Linked DNA regions of Homo sapiens: regions 2, 3 and 4 are each linked to region 1. The links come from fine-mapping of genetic effects on gene expression. A gene starts in region 1. Each other region holds a variant in brackets. All regions are shown on one strand. Distances are from middle to middle.

Region 1 (2,743 bases):
AGATTAAGGCAATGATGATGATGATGATGATGCCATTTATTGAGTAGGTGCCAAGCCCTATACTAATCGCTTTCCATTCTGTTACTTAATCCTCATGACAACCCTCTAAAATGGGTACTATTATTCTTTCCATTTCACAGATGGGGAAACTGATAGAGAGACTAATTGTCTTGCCCAAGATTACACAGTGTTTGAGCGGTGGCAGAATAGAACCCAGACATCCAGAATATGGAGACCTATTCCCCACCTTGCCCCACTCCTGCCCTACCATCACTACCACCACTCCTTCTTTCTCAAAGTGTCCTTTCCAGAACCACATCAAAAACTCTTAAAATGATGGTAAATATTCAGGTTCCAAGGACCTCATCCCAGCCTACTGAATCATGATCTCTGGAGTGGAATCTGGGGATCCGCTTTCAAAGATCCTAACACACACTAAAGTTTGAGAATGCGGTTGAAAGAGGAGTCAGAAGTGTCGGGGTGCGGGAAGGGATCTGAGGTCAGAGGAGGGATCTGTTGTCCAAAGAGGCGTCTGCAGTCAAAGAGGCCTGGAGATGAAGCATGGGCTGGGGTTTTCAAAAGGGTTTGGGGGTGAAGACAGAGTCTGAAGTCGAAAAAGAGGTCTAAGGTCGGAGGAGGAGTCTAAAATCGGAGGAGGAGGATCTCGGAATTCAAGGAGGGGTCTGGGGTCCGAGGAGTTTGGGGTCAGAGACAGGATCTGGGGTCGAGAGGGATTTGCGGTCAGTGAAAGGGTCTGGGGCCCGAAAAGGAAGCCTGGGATTTGAGGAGGACACTAGCTGTATTCAGGCTGGAAGGAGGAAGGGGTTTGGTCCCTGAGCTGCGTAAAGTGCAGAGCCACTGAAGTCTCGCTTGCCCCGCGCTCTCCCCTCGACCCTGCGCTGCCTTCCTGGCTGTCCATCTACACGCACCTGTGTGCCAGCTGCAGGCTGATAGCGCTGAGCAGACGGGGGCGAGTCAGACCGGGACACGGCCGAGGGCTGGGAGAGGCGCCCCCTCCCGGCTGTCGCGAAGATCAGGCCCCGCCCTCCGCCCTCCCACTCCCCCGCCGCAGCCACTTCCGGCAGGCGCTGCGCTGCTGGGGGGCGCGGGCGAGGATGGCGGCGGAGAACGAGGCCAGCCAGGAGAGCGCCCTGGGCGCCTACTCGCCAGTGGACTACATGAGCATCACCAGCTTCCCGCGGCTGCCCGAGGACGAGCCGGCGCCCGCGGCCCCGCTGAGGGGCCGCAAGGACGAGGACGCCTTTCTGGGAGACCCCGACACCGGTGAGGCCCGCTGACCCCGTCCCTGCCCTGCCTTGGGAAGTCCCCGGTCTTCCTTCTTCTGTGTCAAGCATCCACCTCCAGCTCCATCTCCTTAATTCATCCCCATCTTCTTGGATCTCTCCCTTCTTCTCCCTTGTCTCTGTTAATTATTTGGTGAGGAAGGGGGTGCATTTCTGCCTTGGAGGCGTAGGATGCGACAACGGAGAGGATGCTAGGGACTGCAGTAGAAGGGATTGGGCTTACCTTCTGGGAAGAACCAACTAACGATGAAGGAATGTTGAAGGGGAGATCCTAAGGAACCGCTGTGATCACCCAGAAGAGGGCTTTCTCTAGCCACAGAGGACAGGATAGGAGAAACCAAGTCAGAGACTGCAGCAAGAGGGATCCAATCTGTGCCTTAAGAGAAGTTCCCCACAGCCAGGGATTGTGAGAAGCAGAGGGTCTGGGAGAAGCGGAGAATCTCTTCATGTCTAGGGAGGGGTAAAGAGAATATGATTCCCCTCTGTTGGGTGTTGGGAGACGGAGGCATGGACTGCATGACCTCTCAAAAGTCCTTGGGGACTAGAACGCCTTCACTCTCCTGTGGATTACCCCACCCCTCCCTGAGCCATGGATCTGGCCGGGGTATTAGTAAGGTACTCTGCTCCCTAGGAAGCAGTCTCCAGAATTTTACTGTGTTCCCCTCAGCCCTCTGCTGGAATTGTGAGAAGTGGGGGTAAGAGAAGGAGGAGACAGGGATTGGAAGAGACCTGGGGGCAAAGAGCTCTCTGTGCATTCCTTCCCTGCTGCTCTTCCTCCTAGCCATGTGGCCCAGCTTCATCCTCCCCTCCATTCTTCATCCTTCATCCCCCATCCCTCTGTCCCTGCACGTCACTTCCTGGCATTAGAGCATCCTTCTACCTCACTCTCGCTTCCTCGCAGTGCCTGCACTTGAGCCTTGTCTCTTACCAGCCTGGCAGATGCTGCTTTTCCGGCTTGGCCCTTCCCTAGCTGCTCCCAGCCTGAAAGCCCCAAATTCTCTCCTCCTCTACACTTTCTGGTCATCTGGCCCTGACCAGCAGCCCTTGCCAACCTGACTGGACTGCACTCTGTATGGGGTGGGGGTGAGGAGATAATGAAGATGGAGTTTAGAGGTTTATGGGCGTCAAATGTCAGGGCTGCGGATCAAAACTTATTTTCCAAAGGGAGTGGAATCAGGAGGTAGCAGGGAGAGGAGTGGGAAGATGTGTCATGATGGATATCAGCCTGAAGCTAGGCCTTTTATTCAGTAGTCAGGAGTGAGACTTCTGGTCCTAATACAGCCCTGACTCACCAAGCGACAACAGGCACACCTACCCTGTCCTGGGCCTTAGTTTCCTCTTCCAGCTCAACAGAGAATGCCTGTCTCTCTTGACCTAGAGATTGGAACTGCCTGACATGTTTTCTTCTGGCCCTCTGTAAATGTCTTAGCATTTACCAA
Region 2 (2,500 bases), 76 kb before region 1:
TTTCTCTTCCACGCTTTTGTTTCTTCTGTTAATCAATAGGTACCATGTGAAGATCCAACACTTGGTCTTTCTGGGAGGTTATGGAGCCTAGAAAAGGCGTAATCCACAATGAGATTTCTAATCCAGAAAAAAAGTCAGAAAGTGTACGTGTGTGTGTATGTGTGTGTGTGTGTGTGTGTGAGAGAGAGAGAGAGAGAATGATTTTACTCCAAATCTTTACCAAATGCCTGCTCTATGCCGGGCCATTGTAGGCACTGAGGACAGAGAGGTGAGTCAGCCAGAGCCCTAGCCTCTGGGGCTCCTGGTCTAGTTAGAGAACATACCACAAAACAAAATTAAATAACATCAGCTCTATGAGGAAACACAGGCAGTCTGCTACACAAAGTTAACTATCATTTATTGAGTATTTAGTATGTGCCAGGCATTATTCTAAACACTTTGGAATCACTGACTCCTCACCACAACAGAGATAAGGAAACCGAAGCCCAGAGAGGCTAAGTAACCTACCTGAGGTTATTTAAATGGTAAAATAATTGGCAGAGCCAGGATGTGAACCCAAGGAATTTGGCTCCTGAGTCCATGCTCTGAACATCCATGCTTTTTTTCCTCTCCCAAGATACTATATAGGACAGCTGGAAGAAAGAGTAGTTCATTATGATTAGATGATTGAGATGGGGGGTGGTATTTGAACTAGACCTTAAAAGACAAATAGGGAAAAGGAACAGCATAGCAAGGACCCAAAAGTAGGAAAAGGCAAAAAAAAAAAAAAATGTTCAAGAGAATGCAGCTGAAATGCAGGGCGCATAAGTGGATATAGTGGGAAAGAAGGCAGGCCAGCGTCAGACAGCCGCGGGGCCTTAGCTACTGGGTGGAGGAGGAGTATGAACTTTATCCTGTAGATCAGAGCTGCAAACTAGCCATATCTAGGCTGAGTATTTGGCTCCTGCAGTGTTTGGGGAGTTAATTTGTTTTTTACAATAAGTAATACGTTCAAATACATTTGAACAGGGCGCAAAATTCAAAAGGGTATTCAGTACAGAGTAAGTCCCCTTCCTCCAGCCACTGTTTCCCTGACCAGGGGCAAGCATTGTTAACAGTT[G/T]TTTTCACCAGAGTATTTTTAAAAAGTCAGAGCCAACATTTAAAAAAAAAAATCATGAAATTAAAACAAAAAATCTAGCAACCCAACTTGTCTTGAAAAATTATATCATCTGGCAACTCTGGCCTACTTTCCTGCATGGCAACAATTGGCTAGAGCAGAGTTCTGGCTGCCCCCTTTAGAGAAGATGCAAGTACTTCTTTTTGCCACAATTCCTATCACTCCCTGTTGCTTCCTGGCTACAAAGCAGAATTTTGTCATGCACGTGCTATAGGTTTTTTTAAATAGTAGAAAAATGTTTCTTTTTTTTTTTTTGAGACAGAGTCTCACTCTGTCGCCAGGCTGGAGTGCAGTGGCACGATCTCAGCTCACTGCAACCTCTGCCTCCTGGGTTCAAGCGATTCTCCTGCCTCAGCCTCCAGAGCAGCTGGGACTACGGGTGTGTGCCACCACGCCCAGCTAATTTTTGTATTTTTAGTAGAGATGGGGTTTCACCATGTTGGCCAGGATGGTCTCGATCTCTTGATCTTGTGATCTGCCCGCCTCGGCCTCCCAAAGTGCTGGGATTACAGGCATGAGCCACCGTGCCCGGCCAGTAATGTCATTTTATGTTAATGTCTCTATCAAAAGTGAGAAGACTGTGTGTTTCAGCCTTTAGCCTGTAGATAGCAGAGAACAGCTATAAACTATTGATCCTAAATTCAGGAGGGCATAATGAGCCCTGGGACAGAGGCAGAGGGATGTCTTAGCAGAAAAACTCTGAGTTTTTGAGGCCAAGATGAGACTTGTTGGGGGCAGCAGAGCTCTATGTGTTCAAGCCAAGGAAATGCTCCTGTAGTCATCACATAGCTACTCAGGGTATTAGGTCACCCCTTATGTAATCTGCAGTCATTCCCATTCTAACTCATAAAGGCTTCAGACTGAATAAACCTTATTCTCACAAATAGCCTTCCTCAGTTTTATCTTAGATGCTGAGGCCAGGGCAGTGGTACACACCTGCAGTCTCAGCTACTGGGGAGGCTGAGACAGGAGGATTGCTTGAGCCCAGGAATTTGAGGCTATAGTGCACTATGATGGCACCTATGAATAGCCACTGTATTCCAGTCTGGGCAACATAGTAAGACCCCACTCCAAAAAAAAAAAAAAAAGATGCTGAGAAGGGTAATTTAGAAATTATCTACCAAAATTTAAAATAGATTTACCTGAATTACTTGATATTTTTACTTTTAGAAATTTAGAATGTATGGACTTTCTCATATATGAAAATATCTAGAATGTATATTCTAGGATACCCATTGAAACATTAATGGTAATAGGAAAATAAAGAAACCACCTATATACTAGATTCAATAAATTATGGTATATCCTAAGAGTAGAATAATATACAGCAATTAAAAATAATGA
Region 3 (2,743 bases), 120 kb before region 1:
TCCACCTGCTCCCCCAGCTCCGCCGCGCCCTCCGCCTGCTTGCGCCGCAGTGCCGCCACTGTGGCCTCGTGCCGCAGCGCCGCCTCCTCCAGCTCCCGCCGCAGCCTCCCCAGCTCCGCCTCCCGCTTGCGGCAGCCCTCGCGCTGCCCCGCGGATGCGCCGCCTGCCTCCTCCAGCCGCTCGCTCAGCTCCTCCAGCTCCCGCGCCGCCTCTGCACGCTGCTTCTCCACGCGGGCCCGGGCTGCCCGCTCTGCCTCCAGCTCCTCTTCCAGCTCCTCCGCCCGAGCCTGGGGTGGGCACGTGGGGCAGCTGTCACCTCTGTGGGCCTCTGACCCCAGGCCTCACCCACCCGATCCCCACGCACCTGCAGCTCCTTGATCTTCTTCTGCATCTGGGCCCCCAAGAGCTGCTCGTCTTCCACCCGCAGGCTCAGCTGGCTCAGCTCGGAGTCCTTCCTGGGAGCCACAGAGTGGGTGGCCAGCACAGGCCTTAACTCCCACCCACCCGCCTGGGACCCCATAACGCCCCCCAGTCCCCTTCAGGCCCTGAGGGACCTCACCCCATGCACCTGCTGCACTGGGCCCTGAGGCCTCAGCCCTGGACCCTGGCTAGGGCCCTCAGTACAGGGAGGGCAAGACACTACCCCTGCACCCCAGTGCCCCATCTGTCAACCCCCACCCTTAACCTCTGCAATGCCGCAGGAACCACAAGAATCCAGAAGGGAACAAGGGCCAGGTGCAGGCTCAGAAGGCCCCCACCTGCTGCCCCACCACACCTACTTCTTGAGCTTCTCCTCCAGCTGCTGCTTGTCTTGAGCAGCATCAGCCACCGACTCCTGCGTCAGCTTCAGGTCACCCTCCAGCTTGCGCTTGGCCCGCTCCGTGTCCATGCGCAGCTTCTTCTCCTGCTCCAGGGAGCATTCCAGCTGCAGAGCAGGCACAGCAGGGGTCAGCCATGGCCCAAGCCAGCCGGCACCCCGGCCCCGCCACCCAGTCTCGGGGTGGCCCTGACTCACGTCCTCCACCTGTTGCTCCAGCCGGAGCTTGGCCTT[G/A]GTCAGCGCGCTCACACGGTCCTCCTCGGCCTGCAGGTCACCCAGGGCCTGTTGGTGGGCCTCCTGCAACGCCTTCTTCTCCTTGGTCAGCCGGGCCACTGACTCGTCCAGCGCAGCCATCTCTTCCGTCAGGTTCTTCACCTGTGCCAGGGCCAGGGCCAGAATGGGGACGCCCTTCCCCGCACTCTGAGCGGCCACCACACCACACCAGGTCAGAGCAAGTGCCCCTTCCAGCTATGGGACTCAGGCAAGTCACTTGACTCCGAGCCTCCACCGCTTCTGCCTGAGGGAAGGACCCTCCTCATGGGGTTGTAATGAGGATTCACGAGTGGATGCACCCGCAGTGCTCAGCACCACACCTGGCCTGGTGAGAAATCCACAGATGCCAGCCATGTGCAGTATTAGCATGTGCTCAGGGCAGCTGCCTCCTAGTCCCGGCTTCCTCAGTGAGCACCTGTGAGAACCTAAGCTGCCTACCCCTGCCTCACTTTCCCTCCTGTGTAATGGAGTCCCTCCTCCAGCACTGGGAACCACAGGGGCCATCACGAGGGCTCAAGGGCAGAAGTCACCTGCGGGATGCCGAGCTGGGGACATGGAGTTCCTGCCCTCAAGGGGCTTGCACTCCGGGATGGATGAGGATTGCCAGCATGTGCTAAACACCTACCGTGTGCAAGGCCTAGGAGCGTGTGCTCAGTAAAGGCCAATTACACACATCACCACCTACCCTAATGGGGTAAGTGCTGCTAACCCCACTTGACAGATAAAGAAACTGAGGCCCAGGAAAGGCAGTGACATGCCCAGGGCCAGAAAGCAGAGGCTTAGCAGAGCCGGGGTGGGACCTGCAGCCACCTGGCCCCAAAGCTGGCCCCTGGCTCAGGGCCCTTCCCCACAGCTGGCCCGGCCCACACCTTGTTCTCAGTGGCTTGCTTCTCCTTCTCAGCTTTGGCCAGTGTCAGCTCCAGGTCATCAATGTCCTTCTTGAGCTCCGTGCACTCGTCCTCCAGCTTGCGCCGGCGGGCGGCCAGGTCAGCGTTCACCTCCTCCTCATCCTCCAGCCGCTCACTCAGCTCCTTCACCTTCCCCTCCAGCTGCACCTTGGACTTGATCAGCAAGTGGCAGCGCTCCTCGGCATCTGCCAGGTTGTCCTGCTCCTGGAGGGCACACGGAACGGGGCCAGGTTGGGGGAGGGCCAGGTAAACCAGCAGAGAGACACCAGGCCAGGCCCTGGAGAGGAAACTGCCTCTGTAGCAAAGTTTGGCTGTGCTCTGAGAACTCAGGAATGTCTTGACTCGCTCTTGGGCATGGAAGGGCAATAGCGCAGAGGGACACACCAGAGCATTAAGAGGGGAAAGTTAGAAGTGCGGGGCGGCCCAGAGTGAGGCCCAAACAAGGGTTCTGAGAGGGAAGCCCGCTGCTCACTGCCCCGCTGTTGGGCTGAGGCCTTCCGAGGGGCAGGGTGAGCAGCAGCAGCCTCTGCACAGCCACGGACGGGCTCCTGGAGGCAGTCCCTGGAAGGGCTCAGGTATCCTTACCCCCCATTTCCTTACTGTCCAGCTGCGTCACAGTCTCCTGCACTAGCAGGTGAGTTTTGTGACCACAGGGCCATCTCTGTCTTCCCACCAACGTTCCTCCTGCACTAGCCTGAGCCTGGCACACAATTGATACACAAAGCCATGTGCCGAAGGCAGGAAA
Region 4 (2,743 bases), 50 kb before region 1:
CCAGATACTGACATGTAGGACACATTCTTCTCTAATTTTCTTTACCCCTAACCAACTGATATAGTTTGGATGTTTGTCCCTTCCAAATCTCATGTTGAAATATGATCCCCAGTGTTAGAGGTGGGGCCTGGTGGGAGGTGTTTTGGTCAAGGCCGGGGAGGTGGGGGGGGCGGGGGGGACAGATCCCTCATGAATGGCTTGGTGCTGTACTTGCAGTAACTCTATGAGTTCATGTAAGATCTGGTTGTTTAAAAGAGGCTGGTATCTCCTCCCTCTCTCCCTTGCTTCCTCTCTTGCCATGTCAAACACTGGCTTTCCCTTTGCTTTCTGCCGTGATTGGAAGCTACCTGAGGCCTCACCATAGGCAGATGCCAGCACCATGCTTCCTGCACAGCCTGAAGAATGATGATCCAAAATAAACCTCTTTTCTTTATAAATCACCCAGTCTCAGGTATTATTTTATAGCAACACACCAACTCTTCCTGAAAATGGAAGTGGAAGGTACATGTCTTAGTGGGAGGTGCAAGAGGGGGATAGCTAAGGCTCACCATCTCCTGTAACATAGTATCCAGGAAACTTCTTAAAGTAGGTTGTCTCAAAGCGTTCGTGGTTCCCATAGACTGTGCGCATGATCCCTGGCCAGGGCTGCTTGAACACCTGGGGAGTGAGGAAGGGACAGTGATCACATTTGCTATGCTGTCTCACTGGAAGATAATTACAGCTTTTCTAAATGTGGGGGAAAGTGTCCTGAATGAAGTACAGGCTTTGGAGACAGAGGATCCTGGCTTGGAATCCCAGCTCTACCACTTACTAGCTAGGTGACCTCAGAGAAGTAACTTTACCCCTCTGAGCTTCAGGATCCTCATCTGTAAATCAGAGAAAATACTTTCTGTCTTCCAAAGTTATTGTGAGGATTAAATTAATAGTATATGGAAATTGCCTAGCACGGTGTTCTATTATTGATAAGTGTTTAGTAAATTTGTGTCTCCTTTTGGGCAATCCTTGAGGAAAGCAGGTCCAGTTTGATACAAATGAAAACACTCATTTAAAAAACAGTGGTGCCCACACACCAAGTAAATAATTATTGCCCAATCAGTAACATTCTTTGGCAGCAGATCGATGGAATGGATGGAATTCTAGGCTGAGTCAGAAGGCCTGGATGTAAGCCCTGTCCCTGTTACTAACTTGCTCTTGGGAAAGTGAAATGGGGTGGGGTTGAAGGGACAGGTGAGGCTCCTGCAAGTATGAATACAATAATCACAACAGCTAATGTTTATCAAGTACTAATTGTTAGTTTCTCTGCTAACCCCTTCATGTGGATTATCTAACTCAATCAAGCAAGCAACCATAGGAGACAAAGGCATTATTTTTTTCTGAGACGGAATTTTGCTCTTGTTGCCCAGGATGAAGTGCAATGGCACAATTTCGGCTCAATACAACCTCCACCTCCCCGGTTCAAGTGATTCTCCTGTCTCAGCCTCCCGTGTAGCTGGGATTACAGACGTCCACCACCACGCCCAGTTACTTTTTGTATTTTTGGTAAAGACGGGGTTTCACCATGTTGGCCAGGCTGGTCTTGCACTCCTGGCCTCAGGTGATCCGCCCACCTCAGCCTCCCAAAGTGCTAGGATTACAGGTGTGAGCCACCGTGCCCGGCCAGAG[A/G]CACCACTTTAACCCTATTTTACAAATTAGAAAATGTAGATTCAGAGGTGTTAAATAACTTATCTGAGGTCACAGAAGAGGCAGAGCTAGGATTCGAACCCAGGCAGGGTGACTCCAGATCCTACGTGATTTTCTACTATGTTATAAAGCCTCCTTTCTGTAGAATCTTTGTCAAAAGAAGATGGGACTTAGTCTTCCAGACCCAAAAAGGTACCATCAGGAATCTGAGCAACTCTTAAAACGCCCTTAGGAGACTTATGGCCCAAAAGGAAGAGATGCAGGCAAAGTATCGAGGGTCCCCTCCAGGGTCTCTCAGTGAGCAAACCTCCAACCATGAAGTTTCAGTCCTAAGCAGCTACCAGGAGAGATTAGGTTATTAACTCTAAAGCAAAGTACCCTTGGCAGACCCTTTCCCTCTCTCCTTAAAGACTCCCAAGGGCCAGGGCCTCACCAGATAACCTTCAGCTTCACCTTCCAACTCTTCCCCGGACTCATTCAGGATTGCAGGAGCTACACCAAAGAATGGGAAAGTCTAGAAGCAAACGGGAGACAGAACCCAAGAAGAGGAATGAGGCAACTCTGACTCAACTCCCAAGGGGCCCCAGAACCCCAAATTCTTCACACATGTCAGTCCAGTTCTCCACTATCTAACTAGGCCAAGTGCCCCAAGACACCATCCCTGCCTAGCCCAAGACCAGCCAGGGAAGCATCACTCACAGCAGAACCGGGTTTCATGGGTGTGGCACCAGGAAGGGGAGTCAACATGTGGCCACCCTGGGGAAGTCAGAGATGAGAAATTTGAGTCAATCTTCCCACATTGTCCCTGGGCCCCAGCCTTCTGTACCCTTCACTCACTGTCTCTGTTTGCCAGAAGGTGTCCACGATGGGGCAGCGCTGGGCACCTACCACCCGGTGGTACCATAGCCAGGCCTCAGGGTTGATGGGTTCACCCACTGTGCCTAACACCTGCAAGGATGCCCGGCTATGCCTGGGGCAGGGGAATGGGAGAGAGGAAGGCTCTGAGTACTACTGGAAGACACACATACCCAGGCTTTTCTCTTGCCCCATCCTCTATTCCAGG

Which allele goes with the higher level. Positions count from the first base shown, and alleles are read on the strand shown. Sizes are in standard deviations (SD) of each study's normalised expression. Not every link is listed here.
For the expression in unexposed skin of the gene that starts at base 1,075 in region 1, allele A in region 3 goes with a higher level than allele G (small effect, 0.19 SD a copy in GTEx).

What was found. PIP is the estimated chance that this variant, and not a neighbour inherited with it, causes the effect.
Region 2: its variant is the best candidate, but not a certain one, in a credible set for the expression of GGT7 in lung (TOPMed, PIP 0.61).
Region 3: its variant is the best candidate, but not a certain one, in a credible set for the expression of GGT7 in unexposed skin (GTEx, PIP 0.57).
Region 4: its variant is the best candidate, but not a certain one, in a credible set for the expression of GGT7 in whole blood (INTERVAL, PIP 0.54).

The regions. Positions count from the first base shown.
Region 1 is chr20:34,871,188-34,873,930 of GRCh38, reverse strand. GGT7 (gamma-glutamyltransferase 7) reads left to right here and starts at 1,075. Exons shown (of 15, transcript NM_178026.3): 1 at 1,075-1,284. The coding sequence starts at 1,116. RefSeq lists a silencer at 904-1,193.
Region 2 is chr20:34,947,694-34,950,193 of GRCh38, reverse strand. All of the region lies in intron 2 of GSS (glutathione synthetase), which reads left to right. Among named protein-coding and RNA genes, the nearest start is that of GSS, 6.9 kb to the left of the region's middle. The variant G/T (reference allele first, on the strand shown) is at 1,100.
Region 3 is chr20:34,994,795-34,997,537 of GRCh38, reverse strand. It overlaps MYH7B (myosin heavy chain 7B), which reads right to left. Exons shown (of 45, transcript NM_020884.7): 28 at 1,960-2,202; 29 at 1,016-1,192; 30 at 780-925; 31 at 365-455; 32 at 1-287. Among named protein-coding and RNA genes, the nearest start is that of MIR499B, 5.7 kb to the right of the region's middle. The variant G/A (reference allele first, on the strand shown) is at 1,052.
Region 4 is chr20:34,921,237-34,923,979 of GRCh38, reverse strand. It overlaps ACSS2 (acyl-CoA synthetase short chain family member 2), which reads right to left. Exons shown (of 18, transcript NM_018677.4): 11 at 2,518-2,650; 12 at 2,380-2,436; 13 at 2,114-2,194; 14 at 549-657. Among named protein-coding and RNA genes, the nearest start is that of GSS, 33 kb to the left of the region's middle. RefSeq lists an enhancer at 1,941-2,743. The variant A/G (reference allele first, on the strand shown) is at 1,663.